Homo sapiens: one gene and its partners. The protein of the gene in region 4 purifies or fractionates together with the protein of the main gene of each other region. This does not show direct contact. Each region holds a gene or a part of one and is shown on either strand. Other genes may lie near its edges. The genes, in order: PIP4K2B, SPPL2A, PIP4K2A, SLC38A2, TMEM87A and ADGRG5.

Evidence for each region.
Region 1: the proteins of SLC38A2 (region 4) and PIP4K2B purify together in Homo sapiens (affinity purification with mass spectrometry; one large-scale study listed by BioGRID and IntAct). This does not show direct contact.
Region 2: the proteins of SLC38A2 (region 4) and SPPL2A fractionate together in Homo sapiens (co-fractionation; one large-scale study listed by BioGRID). This does not show direct contact.
Region 3: the proteins of SLC38A2 (region 4) and PIP4K2A purify together in Homo sapiens (affinity purification with mass spectrometry; one large-scale study listed by BioGRID and IntAct). This does not show direct contact.
Region 5: the proteins of SLC38A2 (region 4) and TMEM87A fractionate together in Homo sapiens (co-fractionation; one large-scale study listed by BioGRID). This does not show direct contact.
Region 6: the proteins of SLC38A2 (region 4) and ADGRG5 purify together in Homo sapiens (co-immunoprecipitation; one large-scale study listed by IntAct). This does not show direct contact.

The regions. Positions count from the first base shown.
Region 1 is NC_000017.11:38,793,057-38,796,556, forward strand, and holds part of PIP4K2B (phosphatidylinositol 5-phosphate 4-kinase type-2 beta), read right to left. Parts: intron 1-3,500. UniProt on the Homo sapiens protein: Participates in the biosynthesis of phosphatidylinositol 4,5-bisphosphate. Preferentially utilizes GTP, rather than ATP, for PI(5)P phosphorylation and its activity reflects changes in direct proportion to the physiological GTP concentration.
Region 2 is NC_000015.10:50,701,766-50,704,236, reverse strand, and holds the end of SPPL2A (signal peptide peptidase-like 2A isoform 1 precursor), read left to right. Parts: 3' UTR 1-1,971; downstream 1,972-2,471. UniProt on the Homo sapiens protein: Intramembrane-cleaving aspartic protease (I-CLiP) that cleaves type II membrane signal peptides in the hydrophobic plane of the membrane. Functions in FASLG, ITM2B and TNF processing.
Region 3 is NC_000010.11:22,708,079-22,711,578, forward strand, and holds part of PIP4K2A (phosphatidylinositol 5-phosphate 4-kinase type-2 alpha), read right to left. Parts: intron 1-3,500. UniProt on the Homo sapiens protein: Catalyzes the phosphorylation of phosphatidylinositol 5-phosphate (PtdIns5P) on the fourth hydroxyl of the myo-inositol ring, to form phosphatidylinositol 4,5-bisphosphate (PtdIns(4,5)P2). Has both ATP- and GTP-dependent kinase activities.
Region 4 is NC_000012.12:46,366,274-46,369,773, forward strand, and holds part of SLC38A2 (sodium-coupled neutral amino acid symporter 2), read right to left. Parts: intron 1,068-3,500; coding exon 994-1,067; intron 896-993; coding exon 803-895; intron 673-802; coding exon 591-672; intron 1-590. UniProt on the Homo sapiens protein: Symporter that cotransports neutral amino acids and sodium ions from the extracellular to the intracellular side of the cell membrane.
Region 5 is NC_000015.10:42,266,934-42,270,433, forward strand, and holds part of TMEM87A (transmembrane protein 87A isoform 1 precursor), read right to left. Parts: intron 1,100-3,500; coding exon 1,014-1,099; intron 1-1,013. UniProt on the Homo sapiens protein: Potential monoatomic ion channel gated by mechanical force, implicated in normal touch sensitivity through the generation of mechanically activated currents.
Region 6 is NC_000016.10:57,573,643-57,577,689, reverse strand, and holds the end of ADGRG5 (adhesion G-protein coupled receptor G5 isoform 1 precursor), read right to left. Parts: intron 2,876-4,047; coding exon 2,598-2,875; intron 2,253-2,597; coding exon 2,152-2,252; 3' UTR 501-2,151; downstream 1-500. UniProt on the Homo sapiens protein: Orphan adhesion G-protein coupled receptor (aGPCR). Ligand binding causes a conformation change that triggers signaling via guanine nucleotide-binding proteins (G proteins) and modulates the activity of downstream effectors, such as adenylate cyclase.

The DNA of each region.
Region 1 (3,500 bases), on a different chromosome or scaffold from region 4:
TAGATGGGATTACAGGCGCATGCCACCACACCCGGCAAATTTTTGTATTTTTAGTAGAGACAGGGTTTCGCCATGTTGGCCAGGCTGGTGTCAAACTCCTGACCTCAAGTGATCCGCCTGCCTCGGCCTCCCAAAGTGCTGGGATCACAGGCGTAAGCCACTGCTCCCAGCCATCTCTGAAGATTTTTTCTTTTTTTTTTTTTTTTGAGACGGAGTTTTGCTCGTCACCCAGGCTGGAGTGCAATGCCGCCATCTTGGCTCAATGCAACCGCCGTCTCCCAGGTTCAAGTGATTCTCCTGCCTCAGCCTCCCGAGTAGCTGGGATTACAGGCATGCGCCACCATGCCCGACTAATTTTTGTATTTTTAGTAGAGACGGGGTTTCACCATGTTGGCCAGGCTGGTCTTGAACTCCTGACCTCAGGTGATCCGCCCACCTTGGCCTCCCTAACTGCTGGGATTACAGGCGTGAGCCACCATGCCAGGCCCCTCTGAAGATTTTTAAAGCAGTAGGGCAAGATAAAAAGACAGGTAAAGGAGGTCAGTGGCTCACGCCTGTAATCCTAGCACTTTGGAAGACCGAGGTGGGCAAATCGCTTGAGCCCAGGATTTCGAGACCAGCCTGGGCAACATGGCAAAACCCCGACTCTTCAAAAAATACAAGTGTTAGTCGGGTGTGGTGGCATGTGCCTGTAGTCCCAGCTACTCGGGTGGCTAAGGCAGGAGAATCACCTGAGCATGGGGAGGTAGGGGCTTCATTGAGCCGTGATTGTGCCACTGCACTTCAGCCTGTGCAAGAGCGCGAGACCCTGCCTCAAAAAAACAAACAAAAAAAAAAACAAGAAAGAAAGAAAATGTATGGACAGAACAGAACTGGGGTGGAATGTAGGAGAGAAATTGAGCAGACTAAAGAATAAATCTGTCCCTCACACCATACCCAAAAGTGAATTCAAAATGGATTACAGACTTAAATGTAAGAACTAAAACTATACATACTCCAGCACTATTCACAAGAGCTAAGGTGTGAAAACAAATCCATCAACAGATGATAAAGAAAATGTGGTATACATATACAACAGAATACTATTCAGCCTTAATAAAAGAAGGAAATTCTGCTATGTGCAACATGGATGAACCTTGAGCACCTTACGCTGAGATCAGCTAGTCGCAGAAAAACATATATTGCATGATTCTCCTTATATAAGGTTTCAAAACAGTCCAATTCATAGAAACAAAGAGTAGAATGGTGGTTGCCAGGGGCTGGGGGCGGGGGAAATGGGGAGTTAATTGGTAGGCATAAAGTTTCATTCAAGCGAGATGAATACGCTCTACAGAGCTGCACTATGACACTGTTCCCATGGTCATCAATAACATAATCGTACACTTAAAATTTTGTCATGAGAGTACATCTTATGTTAAATGTTCTGACCACAATACAATTAAAAAAAAAAAAAGAAGAAGAAGAAAGAAAGAGCTAAAACTCTAGTTGGGAGGATTGCTTCAGGCCAGAAGTTTGAGAACATCCTGGGCAATACAGAGAAACCCCAATTCATTAAAAAAAAAAAAAAAAAAAAAAAGAGCTAGAACTATAAAACTTTTAGAAGAAAACAAAGGAGTAAATCTTCATGACCTTGGGTTAGGCAATGTCTTCTTAGATATAACACCAAAAGCACACACAACAACAACAAAAAAGATAAACTGGACTTTATTAAAGTTAAAAACTTGAACTTCAAAAGATACCATAAGAAAAATGAAAAAGGCAGGCCAGGTGCAGTGGCTCACGCCTGTAATCCCACCACTTTGGGAGGCCGAGGCGGGGGGATTGCTTGAGGCCAGGAGTTCGAGACCAGTCTGGCCAACATGGCAAAACCCTGTCTCTACTAAAAATACAAAAATTAGCCTGGTGTGGTGGCGGGCACCTGTAATCCCAGTTACTCAGGAGGCTGAGGCAGGAGAATCGCTTGAACCCGGGAGGCAGAGGTTGCAGTGAGCCAAGATCACACCGTTGCACTCCAGCCAGGGCGACAGAGCAAAACTCCATCTCAAAAAAAAAAAAAAAAAAAAAAAAAGAAAAATGAAAAAGACAACTCAATGAATAGGATAAAATATTTGCAAATCATATATCTGATAAGGGACCTGTATCTAGAATATAAAAAGAATTCTTGTAACTCAATAATAAGAAGATAACCCAATTTAATAATGGGCAAAAAGATCTTTGTAAATGGGCAAAAAATTTAATAGACATTCTCCAAAGAAAAGATACCAATGAAGGCTGGGGATGTGGCTCATGCCTGCAATCCCAGTCCTTTGGGAGGCCAAGGCGGGAGGACCACTTGAGGCCAGGAGTTCAGGACCAGCCTCGGCAACAAAGCGAGACCCTGTCTCTACAACAACAACAAAAAGAAAATGTACAGGCCAGGCACAGTGGCTCACACCTGTAATCCCAGCACTCTGGGAAGCCAAGGCAGGTGGATCACCTGAGGTTAGGAGTTTGAGATCAGCCTGGACAACATGGTAAAACTCCATATCTACTAAGAATACAAAAGTTAGCTGGGTGTGGTGGCAGGCACCTGTAATCCGAGGTACTTGGGAGGCTGAGGCAGGAGAATCGCTTGAACCAAGGAGGCGGAGGTTACAGTGAACTGAGATTGTGGCACTAAACTCCAGCCTGGGCGACAGAGCAAGACTCTGTCTCAAGAAAAAAAAAAAAAGAAAAGAATATGTACAAATGGCCAGTAAGTACATGAAAAAATGCTCAACATCATTAGTTATCACAGAAATGCCAATCAAAGTCACAATGAGGCCGGGTGCGATGGCTCATGCCTGTAATCCCAGCACTTTGGGAGGCCGAGGCAGGTGGATCACCTGAGGTCAGGAGTTTGAGACAAGCCTGGCCGACATGGTGAAACCTTGTCTCTACTAAAATAAAAAAATTAGCCACGTGTGGTGGCAGGCATCTGTAATCCCAGCTACTGAGGAGGCTGAAGCAGGAGAATTGCTTGAACCCGGGAGGTGGAGGTTGCGGTGAGCCGAGATTGCACCACTGCACTCCAGCCTGGGTGACGGAGTGAGACTCCATCACAAAAACAAACAAACAAACAAAATCACAATGAGATACGAATTCACACCCAACAGAATGGCTTTAATAACTTTAAAAAGACAATAACAAGTGTTGACAAGGATGCAGATACTGGAACTCTTATACACTGCTGGTAGACATGTAAAATGGTACAGCCACTTTAGAGAACAGTTTGGCAGTTTCTCAAATGGTTAAATACAGAGTCACCATCAACTGCTCCTGCTCCTCTGATCCCTGTGGTAAGGCTTCACACATACCTGGTTCTTAAAATGGCCAACAAGTATCAAGTCAGGTCTACCTCCCATGGTCTCCATGCTCCTCTCTGAGGCCATCTCTTCCCTAATTCCAAACCCTCGGAACTGTATTTCATCCACTAAAACACTGGTTTTTGCTCTTCACTAGTTCTTCCCTGACAGGTGCAA
Region 2 (2,471 bases), on a different chromosome or scaffold from region 4:
CTGAGTAGCTGGGATTATAGGCATGTGCCACCACACCCGGCTAATATAGTATTTTTAGTAGAGACGGGGTTTCTCCATGTTGATCAGGCTGGTCTCGAACTCCCAACCTGAGGTGATCCGCCCGCCTCAGCCTCCTAAAGTGCTGGGATTACAGGCATGAGCCACCGTGCCTGGCACTTGTAGATTTTTTTTTAGATTAGCAATTCCTTAGTAGAATCTGCAATTTATTTCTCTTTTAAAGAGAATTTTAACCCATCTGCTATTGGCATTCTTATATTTTACTTGTCCATAGAGATTTTAGTGAATTGATACATTTATAATAAATACAAATGAGCTTTCCAGTTTTCTTTGCTCTTTCAATTTATGCTTTAGTATAAGCAAAAATTACTATTTTTACATTTTTAAAAATTGTGGGTACATGTAGGTGTATATATTTATGGAGTGCATGAGATGTTTTGATACAGGTATGCAATGTGAAATAAGCGGATCATGGAGAATGGGGTATCCATTCCCTCAAGCATTTATCCTTTGAGTTATAGACATATTTTACATTTGAATAAAAAATATTTGAACTAAGGCCGGGTGCGGTGGCTCACACCTGTAATCCCAGCACTTTGGGAGGCCAAGGCGGGTGGATCATGAGGTCAGGAGTTTGAGACCAGCCTGACCAACATGGTGAAACCCCGTCTCTACTAAAAATACAAAAATTAGCTGGGTGTGGTGGGGCTCGCCTGTAACCCCAGCTACTCAGGAGACTGAGGCAGGAGAATCGCTTGAACCTGGGAGGTGGAGGTTGCAGTGAGTCGAGATCACACCACTGCACTCCAGCCTGGGCGACAGAGCGAGACTCCATCTCAAAAAAAAAAAAAAAAAAAAAAAATATATATATGTATATATATATATATATATATGTATATATGAACTAATTTATTTAGGCTTAATCTCTAAAATTTCAGCCTGATCTTAACCAATGAAATTTCAAAAACAAAAACTGTACTTCAGTCTACAATTGAATGGAATTCAGTGTAGACCAGTACAATGGAATGTACTGGCTGAGATGGGAGGGTCCCTTGAGCCCAGGAGTTTGAGGCTGTAGTGAGCTGTGATTGTGTCTGTGAATAGTGACTGCACTCCAGCCTAGGTGACATAGCAAGATGCCATCTCAAAGAAATATAGATATATAACATAAAATAAATAACTTTATACATTTCCTGGAGGAAAAGTACTCTGTAAATTCAAGAGATCTGAATCAAATTACTCAACCTTTTGGAATTTGATCCTCTACTGTAATACTCATATGCTAGATTACTGAATTTTCAGAGTGAAAAAAAATTGACAGGGTAATATATAGGCCATATTATAGTGAAGATCATAAGTATAAATGTCCTCGTTTAATCTTTCCATATTGAGGACAGCCTCTGCATATAAAAATGTTCATTGGGAGAAAAATTATTTTTAAAACTAAATTTTTATAGTAGTCCTCCATTACTGGCAATTAAGGAGCAACCCACAAAATGTCATTATGTGGTTCTTTGATTAGGCATAAAAAGTATTGCAAACAGCTTTTCTATTCCTTTGGAATATGAATCTTTTTAATGTCTAAAGTTAACCTGCAACATTTTCTAGTAGGACAAGTCAATGTAAATTAGGTAATTTTTGCCTGTTTTATACCTTCTGTTGCATTTTGTTCAAATGAAAACATTTTTTAAAACATGATTGAATTTTTACTTCTCAGATAATTGGTTTGAGTGTGGAATTTCTTTTTTAACACTTTGATATGTAAGTTAGTGTAAATTAATACTTTTATAACACTACTAGGCTTTATATTTTTATGGAATGTTTTAAAATTTGAAATTTTTGAAGTGTTAATTTAGCAGTACTTTATCATTATGTGCCAATACTGACAAGAAAAACAATTTTTTATGTATTTAATATACTATGGTATTCAATAAATTCTATTTTAAAATAAAATTTGAATTTGTTTTATTTTGAATGAGGAAACTAATTGAAAATGAACTAACAGTGTGCTAGATAGATCATGTTCATATAACACAAAAATGGTAATAATTGCTTAAGAAATTATGTAGCTATTTAGGTTTTACAAATTATCCTTAAAACCTAGATTCTGGCCGGGCACGGTGGCTCACACCTGTAATCCCAACACTTTGGGAGGCCGAGGTGGGCGGATCACGAGGTCAAGAGATGGAGACCATCCTGGCCAACATGGTGAAACCCCGTCTCTACTAAAAATACAAAAATTAGCTGGACGTGGTGGCATGCGCCTGTAGTCCTGGCTACTCAGGAGGCTGAGGCAGGAGAATCACTTGAGCTGAGGCAGGAGAATCACTTGAGCCCGGGAGGTGGAGGTTGCAGTGACCGAGATCGTGTCACTGCACTTCAGCCTGGCGACAGAGCAAGACTCTGTCTCAAAAAAAAAAAAAAAAATAGATAAATAAATACCAAGGTCTATA
Region 3 (3,500 bases), on a different chromosome or scaffold from region 4:
GAATGGAAACGAAGAGACGGATTCAAGGAAACTCCCCAGGGATTCCTAACAAAATGGCATCTTTCACCTTCCTTCTACTTACCTTCCAAAAAAGAGGAATTGCCTCTACTTCCACTCATTCACTCCTTAAGTCTTTAAGCTTTCACAGCCACCCGCAATCAACCACAAGCACAGCCATGACTTTCAAGCACTTGGGAACATCTAATTGTGCCGACCTCTGTTTTCTCCTCCTGTTTCTTCTTCCTCTGTCCTTCCCTCAAAGCCAAGTGTCCCCAGTGTCCCTGCTCCTCCGGTGGAGATCTGACTTACCGATTCTGTACGGGCAGGTCTCAATGGTCTATCCCAGCCCTAGTGGCTCCCGAGCTCCAATCACACCTTTCCAGCATCCTACATGGTACTGTAACTGCAGGATCCACCCACCACCATCACCTGCAATTCCACATTCTTAAATCTAAATTGCTTGTGTCCCTTTCCAACCTACAATTTCTTCTCCCAAATTCTCTAATCTATCATGGGGCCACCATTCTTCTAAGGGCTCATCACATACAGTTGGGGCTGGGGGAGGAATCCTTAGTGGTAAAGTTCTTCCTTCTACTGCTATGTAGCCTGTGGACCTGCAGCATCAGTACCACCCGAGAGTATGATAAATGCACAGTCTCAGGCAGCACTCCCAACAGATCTGCTGAATTAGACACTGCATTTTAATTTTTATTGTTTCACATTTAGTGGGAGCCTCCATCTGTCACCCAAGCTACAGTACACTGTACAACCATGGCTCCCTGCAGCCTGGACCTCCTGGACTCAGATGATCCTCCCACCTCAGCCTCCTGAGTAGTTCAGGCTACAGGTGTGTGCCACCATACCCATCTATGTTTTTACATTTTTTGTAGAGACAGGGTCTTGCTATGCTGCCCAGGCTGGTCTCAAAATCTTGGCCTCAAGCAATCCTCCTGCCTCAGCCTCCCAATGCATGACTAGGATTACATGCATGAGCCACCTACCCAGCAGCAGAGCCTAATTTAGCAGACTTTTTTTTTTTTTTTAAAAGTCCCCGATTGATAAACACCTTAAATTTTGAGAAACAGGGATCTGGTTCTTTTAATATATCACCATCCAAACTGCATTTGAACTTTATTACTTTTAGGCATCATTTACTGAATCCTTATGATGTGCTAATTACAGTGCTAGGCCTTAAACACAGTATCTCATTTAACTCTCAACCCTGTGAAGTCATATCATTATCTCCATTTTAAGAATGTGAAAATTGAGGCTCAAGTGACTAAATCACCTGCTCAAAGAGCCCATCAGTTCCAAAGTTAGCATTTGAACCTCATCTGTCTAACCACAAACCTTTTTTGCCAAATTGCACCAATTCCCTTCAATTCCAAAATTTGTATTTCGAAGGCTATGCTGGCAGAATTAATTACTCTGGTTGCCTGTATTTTCTAATCAACTTAAGGCAGATTTTGGTGGTTTATTATAATTCTTGCCGGCAACCTATCTAAAGACACAGCAGATCAGGATACCCTGGAAATAGAAATCACTGACCTGACATGGGGCATCATTCTGAGTACTGAAGTTTAGTAACTGTAAGTACTAAGTAACACTAAGTACTAAGTATAAATACTTAGAGTTCACTCTAAAGTATCTGACAAATGGAGAGGAAAATGTATTCTGTTCTCTGGTTATAATCCCAAGTTTTAAGGAGTATAAAACGACTTCCCTAATAAACTTTCTGTATGTCTGCTTGGTATGTTTCTTTCCTCTGAAGATTAAAAAGAACAAAAAAATAGTTTGAGGAGACTAGTTCTTGAATGAATGGTAGCTGGGTTCCACTCAATAATTTCATCTAATGTCTAATTTTAATTTTAATGTAATTGCCTTATTATGTCCTATTCAGTCAAAGTCATTTCACAGTCACTCAAATCACTTTAAAACTTAGTTTCCTTATCTTCTTTCAGTGCCCAAATAAAAACCCATGAACCAAAAAAAAAAAAAAAAAAATTATGATGTATCCAATATGGTCTTTGTCTATTCCAAAAACCAGAGCTTGTGGAGAATATAATCAAAGCTACTGACGCTCCACCAAGGACACCATGAATTCTCCAATCCACACACAACACAGCACATGGTGCTCATCAGGCTGGCCCTCACAGATTCCCACGGTAAAGACCCACGGATGTCCAGAACCATCCAGCTCTATTACTCGGACAGAGACCTGCCTGAAACTGCCTGGCAGGCCCTTTCCCCTCTCTGGGGACTGTTCTTTCCCCAACGCCAACAGGCAAGCGCTGCCATGTTTTTATAACTGCTTAGTCCAAGGGACGGCCACAAATGACCAAGGCCAGACCAATCCCAAGTGGAATCCTTCCACGGTATTTTTATAACTGAATTAGAGACAGGAAACCCTTTTGGGGGAGCAGAAATGACAAAATGTGAAATACAGGAACCGTTCATTCCCTGCTCTGTGGAGGAACCAGCCAGCTATGAAGGAGAACTGAGCCAAAGGGTACAGAAAAGTCCCACGCACTCACACACCCACACACTCAAGCACCCAGCTCTTCACATGGTTCCATTACCAGCCTTTCCTTCTACTGTGATAGGCCCCCCAAACCCCTCAATACCTGACATTTTTGCCAAAGCTCATTTCAACTTCTACAGCTTTAAACCAAAAGCCTCTAACATCAATACTTAGCTACTTCTAAATGCTACATGTTTTAAACAAGTTTTATGTGCTTTAAGATTTTTCTATACAGATAATGTTTTCCTTTGGATATTTAAATAGGTTTTAAAATACTAATTTCTAAAAGGCTCACATTTCACTGTGGATAAAAATCTTTTAGAGTATCTATTTAAAACAAGTCTTGGCTCATATCATTCAACATCCTCCCCACACTATTAAAATATCATCTTAAGACGCTTACTGTTTGATCATTTTTAGTTTAATTCTAAATGTAACAAGACAAAACTGCCTTAAGTCTTTTCCTTTATGTATTCAGTTATATTCTCTGCTTAAAATACTTAAAAATTGGCACTGATCCATTCACTGATGGGTATTTTAAGTTACAAAGCAGTAACATATCAAATTAACCACACAATGGCAGGCTTACTCCCGACTATGACCATTGCCCAAATCAAGATTTTCATTACCACCTCAATGGACTTGAACATTTTCACCTTAATTGCAAGTTGTTATGTTTCAATCAAATCGACTTTGGCTTAATAGACTGCAATGCAGTTCAGCTACATTCAATATAACAAACCCTTAGTTCACAGTCTCTTAAAATCACCATAGATTTCCTTCCCCTGTAGTCAAGGTCTTGAAAATTCCCTGAATGTTGCTGCATTTGGAAGGTTATAATAGTAAGACAACTTTTATATAGTATTCTACAAATCCTAGTATAACACTGTGCACCTAGTAGACTGAAAAAACAGAATCTTGAGTTAGACTTGGAAATCATCCAAACAACCTCAGTTCACAGATGCAAACACTGATGCCA
Region 4 (3,500 bases):
GCACTGAAGTCTAAACACAAAATTCACTTATGTTTCCTATACACCTTCTTAAACCCATAGCCTAAAGGTGATTTTATACAGTATTTTAATTAATTTTGCACACCTGTCACGAGATCAGGTGTGGATTTTCCACTTGTAGTGTCATGTTGGCACTCAAAAAGTTTTGGATTTCAGATTAGGGATGTCCAGCCTGTATTTTGCATTGAACAGATTAAGTCTTAAGAATTCCAAACTTACAAAAATAAGACGGATTAATTTTTAATGTAATTCAAAGCTTCAGTCCTCACTTAGGATATATATTAAAAACACCTATAACTTCTTTAAGTATGAACATAAAGACAGAAAGCAAGTTCTAGAAAACCTGTTTTAGAAATTAAGATATCCAAAATTGTAGGGCTAGCTACTATCTTTCGGCCTTTCCTTCTCCAAAGTTCGAATCAGTTTACGGGGATGGGGGGCCTTCTTGGTCAGTTTCAAAAGGAACATTTATGGATAATTAACTAATCATTTTGTATACAACTTTGATAAAAATGTATCTAACCACTTTTGACTATAATTGTTTCTTATGAGTAACCTTACTTAGCACCTACCCAGTTTTATCTTCAATGTTCGTTAATGCCTGGATCACCAAAGGCAACTCATATTTCACTATGAAGAGGTAGCTTGACATAGCTGGAGGAAAACAAAATTATACCATTACAAGTGCAAAACGCGGCACGTGACACTAAAACGCATGTGTCACCATTCTGTGCTCCACAATGAGCATAAAGTCTACCCAAATAATCTTTTGAAAAATTCTTACCTCCAATGTTCTGCATTGTAATTGATCCAGATGCTGCAAGCTTTCCAACTAATCCAAATGCCTTATATCCCAATTGTTCATATAATAAAGACCCTACAATTTGAAGACAGAAGCATGAAGCCAAGGATTTTAAAAGAGAAATAAAATGATAGGTATACATTGTTTTAGAAAAATCAAGAATGCTATCATACCTCCTTCATTGGCAGTCTTCAAAAGGAGATGAACAGAATACAGGGAAAATATTGACACAAATGTCAAGAGAATTCTGGTGAGAGAAGGAAAAGGCATAGGGTTATAAATAAGCATGGCTATATTTAAAGACAACTCTTTCTGGATGTTTAAATAACATTATGTGTGCAACTTGTCCTATTTGTGTCAAAATGCCCTGAAGAACTGGCATTTCCTCTCCTACTAACTGGAATGGCAACACTGTCTCTTGGCTGGCAGTAAAAACTTGCATCATTTCTCAGGTGATAGTTCTACAGCATTGGTTAGGAACAAGGATGTCTACCCACTGAGCCAAACATAGCATGAGACACTGGAAAGCTCAACTTCCCAGTGATGGAGTTTGAAACTTGTATTTTGATTCTGGCACCACAATAATGAGCTGTATGCTTGCCACCTTTCTGCATTTCAGTAGTTCCCCTTATCTGTAAAATATTAGTAATATCCGCCACTAAACCCAGCCCACAAGGTTCTTGGGAAATTCAACTGAGACACGTTCAGGAAAGGTTTTAAGACCACATGGACCGTATACACAAAAACAGGAATGACAGGCCAGGTGCAGTGGCTCATGCCTGTAATCCCAGCACTCTAGGAGGCTGGGGCAGGATGACTGCTTGAGGCCAGGAGTTCGAGATCAGCTTGGACAACATAACATAGGGAAGCCACATCTCTACCGAAGGAAAAACAAAAAGCCAGCTGTGGTGGTGTACACCTATAGTCTCAGCTACTCAGGCTGAGGTGGGGGTATCACTTGAGCCCAGCAGTTTGCCACTGCACTCAGCCTGGAGGACAAAATGAAATACTGTCTTTTTAAAAAAAAAAGAAAGAAAAGGAAAAGAATGGTAAGGGGGAAATGACACTAACATGATACTAACATTTTAAGAGGCACTACAAGCTTTACTAACAACTGGGCACAAATCAGAGAACTAACCATTGTGATGACATACTACATTGCACCCCATGGCAAGGAATACAGGCCCACTATTGTCACAGTTAAACAATGTCTGTGCTAGAACAAGTAGGCTATCAGCTTGACTGTCTCTAAGCCTTTCCTCCCTTGACCCTTTCACTTGGATTGAGCAACAGAAAAAAAATAAATAAATAAGGTAACATAGAGTGACTAAAGGGACCCTAATGTCACCTAATTTTCCTTTAGGGTAAGGGTTCTCCCTCATTCCAGCTTTACTTTCCTTCCACCTAGGAGAGCCCAGAGATACAGACTAATTTTTTAAAGAAATTAAATAACAAAACAGGGAAACTCATAGAAAACCTTGCAAAGGAGAAGAGTTACATGTTTTTTAATTCCGTATGAACAAACTGCACGCAGTACCATGTAAGGTGCTGACAAAGAAACTGATGTCTATTAGTTAAACAGAGGAAGTGGCTTTACACTACCATTCTAAATGCCAGAAGTTTTACAGGACCTAGTCTGAAGTGACACTATCAACCTCACTTCTAACTGGAGAAAATATGTTGGTTTAATTAAAAACAAACCAAATTAAGTCCTTCCATGTCTTATACTGAAATGACAAGGGATGAATAGACTTTATAACCTTTGAGGTCACTTTCAACCTTCAGATTGATTCTACTTAAACAGGTTAGCTACAGGGTTGCTGAAGTGCACCGTGGCAGCCATGTGGTTTTTGGCCCATTTTCCTCTATACCTCTAAATATAAAGTAAGTACTGATGAATAAAATCACACTTTAGCAATCTTATTTAGCCATTAAGCAAAATGGTAAATCAATGACATAAGCACCTATTAAAGTATAATTCCAAGAGTACAAGGGTTACATCAGAATTTGACCTTCACTTATGAAACAGAGGTGCCATTTAGTATCATTTCAATTCTTACTTTAACTACACTGGCTGCACTCTAAAACTGCCTCCAGTTTTTATACCAAGTGCTAACAAGGATTTCAAATATTCGACAGTGATGCCATTCAGGTTCTCCACTAAGAACTCCTGAGATTCTAGGATTCTACGTAAATCGCTGGTCCTTCACCTTAGTAAGAGTTCTCTCAAAAAGCCTCATCCTAATTGAAGCAAGCCAGAGTGAATCCTAGCATCTAGTACTCAAAGCCAGGCTTAACCTCAGTGTGGAATTTCACAAAGCAGAGATTTGCAAAGGTCTGCTTTTCTTTTCATGAACATTCTATCGTGCTGGAGAAAATAACTTGAGTAGAAGGCACCAATCAGCTAAGTAAAACACATCTGTCACAAAGGGACAATTCCATGCTATATACATATGGTTTCCTTATCTGTACAATGAAGGTATTAAGTTACACAATCCTCCACAGAAATTGCCTTAGCCAGGGGTCCACGGGTACTTAAACTTAAGGGCTATGACACAAACATCACTGAAAAATACATGCTTAAGATTGCATGTATTTTTGTTTTGTGCTTTTTCCCTGGAAATAAGATCCACATTTTTCTATCATATTCTCCAAGAGTCAGTGACGCAAAAATGGCTAA
Region 5 (3,500 bases), on a different chromosome or scaffold from region 4:
TCAGACTTGGTTATTTGAGAGTTATTTCTCTGGAAATGGGCAACAGAGGCTGTCCCCTCAAGGAAGACAACTGACAGTATTCACTGCCAAAATAAAATTTGAGATTTCAAGCAAAAACTGGAATTTTGAAGAACTTGTATCTGCTACACTGAATTTAACGGCTTCCAAAACTTAAGAACCTACTGATGAGATGAAGAGGGCAGGGTATAGTTATAAACAATGTAATTTTTAGCTAAGTGTGAAATGAGTTAATATTTATAAAAATGTATATAATTCAGTCAACTGCTATTTTCTAAATGACCAATAAATGATGCTACAAGATCACACACAGGTAAAAGATACATTCATATCAGTGGATTTCTTATCAGAGTACAAAAAAAGTTCATTAATATTTCAGATTCCACATTGCAACTAACCTTTAAAAACTTCCACTTGTTGAGTTTTGGTATAGAATCAAAAAAGAATATCCTCAGTTATCTGAAAAGGCCATTAAAATACCATTCCTTTTCCCAACTATATATCTGTATGAGGTCATTATTTTCTACATGTACTTAAGCCAAATTATTGCAACAGACTGAGTGAAGGAGGGAATATAAGAATACAGTGATCTTCTGTTATGCCAGATAGTAAACAAATTTACAAAAATACAAAACAATCCTACTCTTCTGTGTGGTTTTCTGGGAAAAACAGTTATTTATATTAACATGCAATAAGTTTATTATTGCTACTTTAAAATAAACTAATAAATATTTTTATATTTTCTCAGTTGTAATTTCTAATAGCATAACCCACATGCTCAAAGGCTTTCTGGAGTCCACAATAATTTTTACAAATATAAGAGTTCTGAAACCAAAAAGTTTGAGAATTGGTGGTCTGCAAATTGGGAAGCATGCATTCTAGTTTCAGCTCTCCTCCTCCATAGCTACATGATACTCTTTCCTCTATGAAATTAAGAGACTGGAACCAGATAATCACTAAGGTCCAAAAAAACTCTGTAATTTTATGTTCCTTACCTTGAAGTTATAGATTTCATTGTAACAATCAGCGCTTTTCAGATACCAGGTTATATTCAAAGACAGGTCACAAGGTTCTCCATCAACTACAAAAGAAGAAATCTTTGTTAACAAAAGATAATTCCCCAACAAAGCATTTTTCCTAAGCTGTTAACCTATATCCTATTCATTTCGTACCCTAAACTGAGATACTCAAAGACCATCCTTTCTCCAAACATAAGGTATTGAAATAATACATGCAAAAAGAGCTGGATATTAAGATAAAAGTATTGTTGTTCATAGAAAAATAGCAGGTAAGCAGTTTTTAACCTCTGGAAACTGTGGATCTATTTTTATGCCATAAAGTCCTAACTTCTGGATCTCTATTGAGAAAAACCTGGGAGTGATAAAGCACTCTAAATTCAAGCCAGTCTTCTATTATTTAAGTATTTATTGAGCAGGCTAGGTGCGGTAGCTCACACCTATAACCCCAGAAGTTTGGGAGGCCAAGGCAGGGGGATCGCTTGAGCCCAGGAGCTCAAGACCACCCTAGGCAACATAGTGAGAACTCATCTCTACAAAAAATGATTAAAAAGCTAGGCGTGGTGGTACATGCTTGTAGTCCCAGCTACTCAGGCAAGGGAGGCAGGAGGATCACTTGAGCCCAGGAGGTCAAGTCTGCAGTGAGCCATGATGGTACCACTGCACTCCAGCCTGGGCGACAGAGCGAGACCCTGTCTCAAAAAACATAAATAAATAAATAAATAAATAAATAGCACAAGTATTACAAAGGTATAATGGCACACTGTTAGGCTAAAGAGGGAAACGAGTGGAAACAAATTATTAAGACCCTTCAAAAGGCTAGTTGAAGAGACAAGCAATAATAAAATTAGGAATGCATGTCACAAGGCAATATTAACAACTGTTAAATGGTGTTAAATGATGATATACATAATAGTTCCACTGAGAGCAAAATTGCTATCTCAGACCTTGAAAGATATCAAGATAGAACAGAAAGAGCAATGAACGAAAAGCAAACATGGCTGTGGAAGGTAGAAATAGCAAAAGCAAAGATAAGAGTATCAGATTTTTTTTTTCAAAGCCTACCTTAAAAGAGGCCTCAAGGAAGCTCATGTTATCATGGAAGCTTCATAAAGCTCATTAAACACAGTTTGGAACACAGTATTCTAATGGATCAAGACATTATTCTGAAGACTTGGGAGGGTAAATCTGACTATATGACTGATTAGCTGGAGGAAGTCAGTATTCGCTTTTATCTTTGATTCTAGCTATGAAAGGAAAAATATACTAAAGACTCCCTACTTTATATAAATGTAATAATAAACATGACAAAAATAAACATGACTGCATTTAGGAATCTACTTTTCATTCATAACAAAAGAAGCAACCTAATTATAAGCTTCCTTTTTTTTTCTTTTAAACTGTTTTCTCAAACTAATTTTTAGATGACCAACACATTTTCAAAGGACTCTATTAGAATGTTCAAAAATTTGACCTGTTGGATAGAATTTATGGAAATGATAAAAAGCAATTGGGCTATGAACTATTCAAAATAATCCATACAGGGACAGGATTAACTAATAAAAAGCCAGTAAGAACACATCCCCCAAACAGGAGACTTGTAAGGAAATTTGGCAGCAAAAATACTGCTGTTTATGTTACAAGACAATATTTAGAACTTTAAATGAAAGGCTTTAAGAGACAATAAGGTCGGGCGCGGTGGCTCACGCCTGTAATCCCAGCACTTTGGGAGGCCGAGGCGGGTGGATCATGAGGTCAGGAGATCGAGACCATCCTGGCTAACAAGGTGAAACCCCGTCTCTACTAAAAATACAAAAAATTAGCCGGGCGCGGTGGCGGGCGCCTGTAGTCCCAGCTACTCGGGAGGCTGAGGCAGGAGAATGGCGTGAACCTGGGAAGCGGAGCTTGCAGTGAGCCGAGATTGCGCCACTGCAATCCGCAGTCCGGCCTGGGCGACAGAGCGAGACTCCGTCTCAAAAAAAAAAAAAAAAAAAAAAATGGTCCCAGCTATTCCATGGAAAGCTATATACCATCCCCCAAAAAGTACAAAATCAAAGACAACTGGTAAATATGAGAAAGCACAGAAATAACAAAGAAAAAGATAATGTTAAAGTGTCTCAGGCCGGGCACGGTGGCTCACACCTGTAATCCCAGAACTGTGGGAGGCCAAGGCAGGCAGATAACTTGAGGTCGGGAGTTCGAGACCAGCCTGGCCAATATGGTGAAACCCCCACCTCTGCTAAAAATACAAAAATTAGCCGGCGTGGTGGCACGCGCCTATAGTCCCAGCTACTCGGGAGGCTGAGGCAGAAGAATCGCTTGAACCCAGGAAGCAGAGGTTACAGTGAGCCGAGATCGTGCCACTGCATTCCAGCCTGGGCGTCACAGCAAAACTCCGTCTCAAAAAACAACAACAAAAAATAAAGTGCCTCAAATCCTCCAAAAACAATGAAATATAAACACTTC
Region 6 (4,047 bases), on a different chromosome or scaffold from region 4:
TTCCCATAATTCCTCGGGACCCTCATTAGCAAGGGGACCCCCTGCCCCAAGGCCTGGAGAGCCTGGGCTTAACCATGGGAGCTTGGATGGGTGCTCACATCACCCAGATGGTGGCAGGGGTGGGGAGAATCTGCCTGGAGTTAGCGTGGGAAAGAGGCCTTCTCTAGGCACCGCTGGGGCAATTTTGTAGATGTGATAAATGACCACCAGGAATTTCTATAGACCGGAAGATTGGGGAACTGGGAGGTCGGGGGACATGTGGCATGGCCTGGAGGCTGCACTGTGTGGGGACTATTCCTAGAACAGCAGAAAGTCAGCGAGGTGGGAGTAGAGACCCGTCTGGGGAAAGAAACTGAGGCATGGTGAGATGTGCCTAAGAAGGGGTTGTGCCTACAAGGTTGAGCAGAGCTGGGCCTGGGGCTTAGACAGGCTGGCCTCTGAAACTCAGTTAACACTGTTAACAATAATAGCAAAAATACTAATGATAATACCAGTAACCATTTACTGAGCACTTACTCTGTGCCAAGTCTCTTTATTTGAATTCTTTTACTTAGTCTTCAAAATAGGTACCACTATGGCCTCTATTTTACAAATAGGAAAACTGAGGCACACAGAGGCTGAGTGGTTTGTCCACAGTCTCACAGCTAGCAAGTGGCAGAGCTGGCATTGGAGCCCAGGCAGCCTGGCTCCAGAGCCTACGCCACTCACTGCCTGGTGAAGGAGTTATTTGCATCTAGAAATGTACAGAAGAGCAGAAGATGTCCCAGGAGAACTTTTCCCCAGGGGAAATCCTGCTCCTATTTTCTGCCTGTGACCTTCGAGGTCATCAAAACGGCCCAGTGGCCTGGGGCAGGGCCCTGAGCACCCACCACCTGAGCACCCTGCTCTGGTGCCAGCTATGTCTGGGGTGCAGCCCCCAAGAGCGAAAGTGCACCGCCGCATTGGGAAAAGAGACAAATGGCCGTGTAAGCGTGTCTTGCCTTTCCTCCTGGAGGAAATGGGTCACTCAGTAGGCGCAGTCCTGCAGTTACGGCCCCTCCAGCTGGTGCATGGGGTCTGCAAACAGGTGTTTGAGCGATTCTAGATGCAGTCTTGGCGCCAAGGGCCTCTGAGTGTGGACCAACGGTGCCGCCTAGTGTTCGTTCTGGGAAACGCACTGGCTTCATGAGCACTGTCTCATGAAGGTCTGGGGTAAGGGTGATTCTCTGAAACTATGGCCTGAGCTTCGAATTTAAAACCCACACTCTCACGCCTACCTGGGCAAATTCAATCTTGCCCAATCACCAAACAGCCAGGACACTGGGATCCAGCTGATTCAGCTGGAGGAGAAAGAAGCGTTTTCCTCTGCCCCCAAGAAAACTGCGGGATGGGCTACTGGTCCAGATGGTCTATGGAAGTCTTGGGAGCACCGCAGGAGGAGCCTCTGGGAACGGCGGAACCTCCCAATCTTTGGGAAGGGTGGGCTTGGACTTGGAGTCATCATAATTTAGGGAGTTAAAGGAAAAGAGGCCTCAGGCATAGGCCAGTAAAGTCTCAGAGCCTGGGTAGGTCCCACCCGCCCCAAGCCAGGATGCCATCTGGCCCTCCCCTGGAGGAAGGTGGCAGGGCCAAGCAGGTGCTTCCAGGGCAGCCTGAATGAGATCCTGCCCCTAGCAAGCAGGTGGAGGCCGCGGGAATTCCCACCCCACGCTGACACTCTTCCCCCTGGTCTTATGCAATTTTTACTAAGCTCCTGGGTTAGGCTGAAACAAAGCCGCTTGCCCCCATGTCACAGCTGTGGATACCTAGGGTCTGTGAGAAGTGGCAGGCCCAAGGTCATACAGACAGACTCAAAGACAGTCCTTGAAACTTGGCTTCCTGATGCCCAGGCTGGTGCTCTGCCCACATCCCTGGCGAGCTGGGCCCAGGTACCAGGACAAAGTTTGCTGCCCCAGGTAAGGTTGGATCTGCCCCGGAGCAAAATGTCAGGGAGAGGTAGAGCAATGCCTTCCCCTCAGTGCCTGGAGAGGCCGTGGAAGTGGAAAAGGCCCCTTGGCGGTCACAGTGGCCTCTGGGGTCCAGCAGCAGGCCTGCCACCCTCTCTAGCAGGAGCCGTAGCCTCAGGCTACTGGCGGCCAGAGAGGCTGAGGATTCCAGGCCAGGAGGCCCGGACTACTGTGTTGTTTGGGAGGAGCTGAAGGCCTCTATCTGTGCCTTGGCCTCTGCTTCTGAGCGGCACCGCTGGGAGCAGAACCACAGGAAAAGGAAGAAACCTGCAAGAGAAAGGCGGGAGTTCCACGGGGCAGCATGGGCTTCCCCAAAGGCCAGGGTCTCCTTGGCTGCAGCGAGCTGGCCTCCCTGGGGCCCATGGGCAACTCCCAGAATCTCTTACTGTAGGAGGCCAGAGGGGCAGAGCCTCAGAGCTGGAAGAGCTGCTGTGGCCAGTCCATAGGGTACCTTCATGCAGATGTAGCCCCCACCAGCTTAGCTAGTGGAGCTGTGGGCTGGATGTTAGTCCCCCACTCGCCCCCTTCACCTGAACCCCTTTAGCAGTGAACATCCCACCAGCCATACACCCCCTGCCAGGTAGCTTCCTCCAGGCCGCCCTCCAGCCCTACCGTAGAGCGAGTTTAAGATGGTGAAGAGGAACAGCTGGGGCAGCAGGAAGACGCCAAAAGAAAAGAAGGCCAAGGCCCAGGTGGTTCCCAGCAGCACGGTGAGGCCCAGCACAGTGACAGTGTCATGGCAGGCCCTGACACTTGGTGCATCCGCCCGCTCCCGCAGCCTGCGCAGGGTCCACAGCGCCCAGGCCAGCACCACCAGGTTGAAGAGGGACGTGAGGCCGCCGTAGCCCATGACCAGGACACTGTGCACCACGGGGCTCCGCACCCAGCATCTGCAGGGGAGGGTGACGTGTCAGGCTCACAGTGGCTCCCAGGCCCGCGGGGAGGCCAGCATCACTCCCTGAAGCCCCACTCGGTCTCCTGGCTCAGGCCCTATTGTTTCTTGCCTGACTGAACACACAGTGAAACCCCTCACCCGGCTTTCCAGCCAGGCCACCATCAGAGGACACATCTGCCTCCTTGGTCAACAATCTGAAGCTCCCTCATGCCCACCTTTCCAGCCACAGTGGTTTCTCTCACGTCCCCATGTCTTCACCCCCCTGAAAATTCTTCCTCTCTCCTTTCCACATCTCACTCCTCTCTGCTTCCATGGCCAGCCCAAGGCCGGCATGCCCCATCTTCTATTGGATCCTTGGCCCGGAGCCCTCTTTCCTGGAAACTTCCCCTTCCACCCCACTACATGGTTGTCACCACCTCATCACCATCTCTGCAGTGGGACGCCCCTCCCCAGGAGCCACTCCCCACCTAGACGGGGCCACCAAGGCCTGCGCTGGAGAGTGGGCGGGCTGCCAACCTGTGGCTTGGTGGACAGGGACCCTCCAAGTGTCAACCTGAGAGCACACAGAGCCGCAGGAGAGCCCACTGAGGGCTGAGCAGAGAGCCATGGAGAACTAACCGAAGCCAGCCCCGGTCCCACGCCCTCCCGGAGGCCTCTGCCCTTTGCCTCCCCAAGACACCTTCAAGACAGATGCCACCTTTTAGTCGGACACAATGTCATGCTGAGGCAGGAGAAAAGGGTTTAGAGACAGGGAAATGTAAGGACTTCCTAGAACTAAATCAAATGGAGGCCAGGCGCGGTGGCTCATGCCTGTAATCTCAGCACTTTGGGAGGCCGAGGTGGGCGAATCACTTGAGGTCAGGAGTTGGAGACCATCCTGGCCAACATGGTGAAACCCCGTCTGTACTAAAAATACAAAAATTAGCTGGGCGTGGTGGCAGGTGCCTGTAATCCCAGCTGCTCGGGAGGCTGAGGCAGGAGAATCACTTGAACCCGAGAGGCAGAGGTTGCAGTGAGCCGAGATCGCACCACTGCACTCTAGCCTGGGTGACAGAGCGAGATTCCATCTCAAAATAAATAAAAATAAATCAAATGGAAACACTTCAGCTATGACAGAAAATATCCTCTCCATTTACATAGGGCATATGCCAAATGACTTTGTAACTT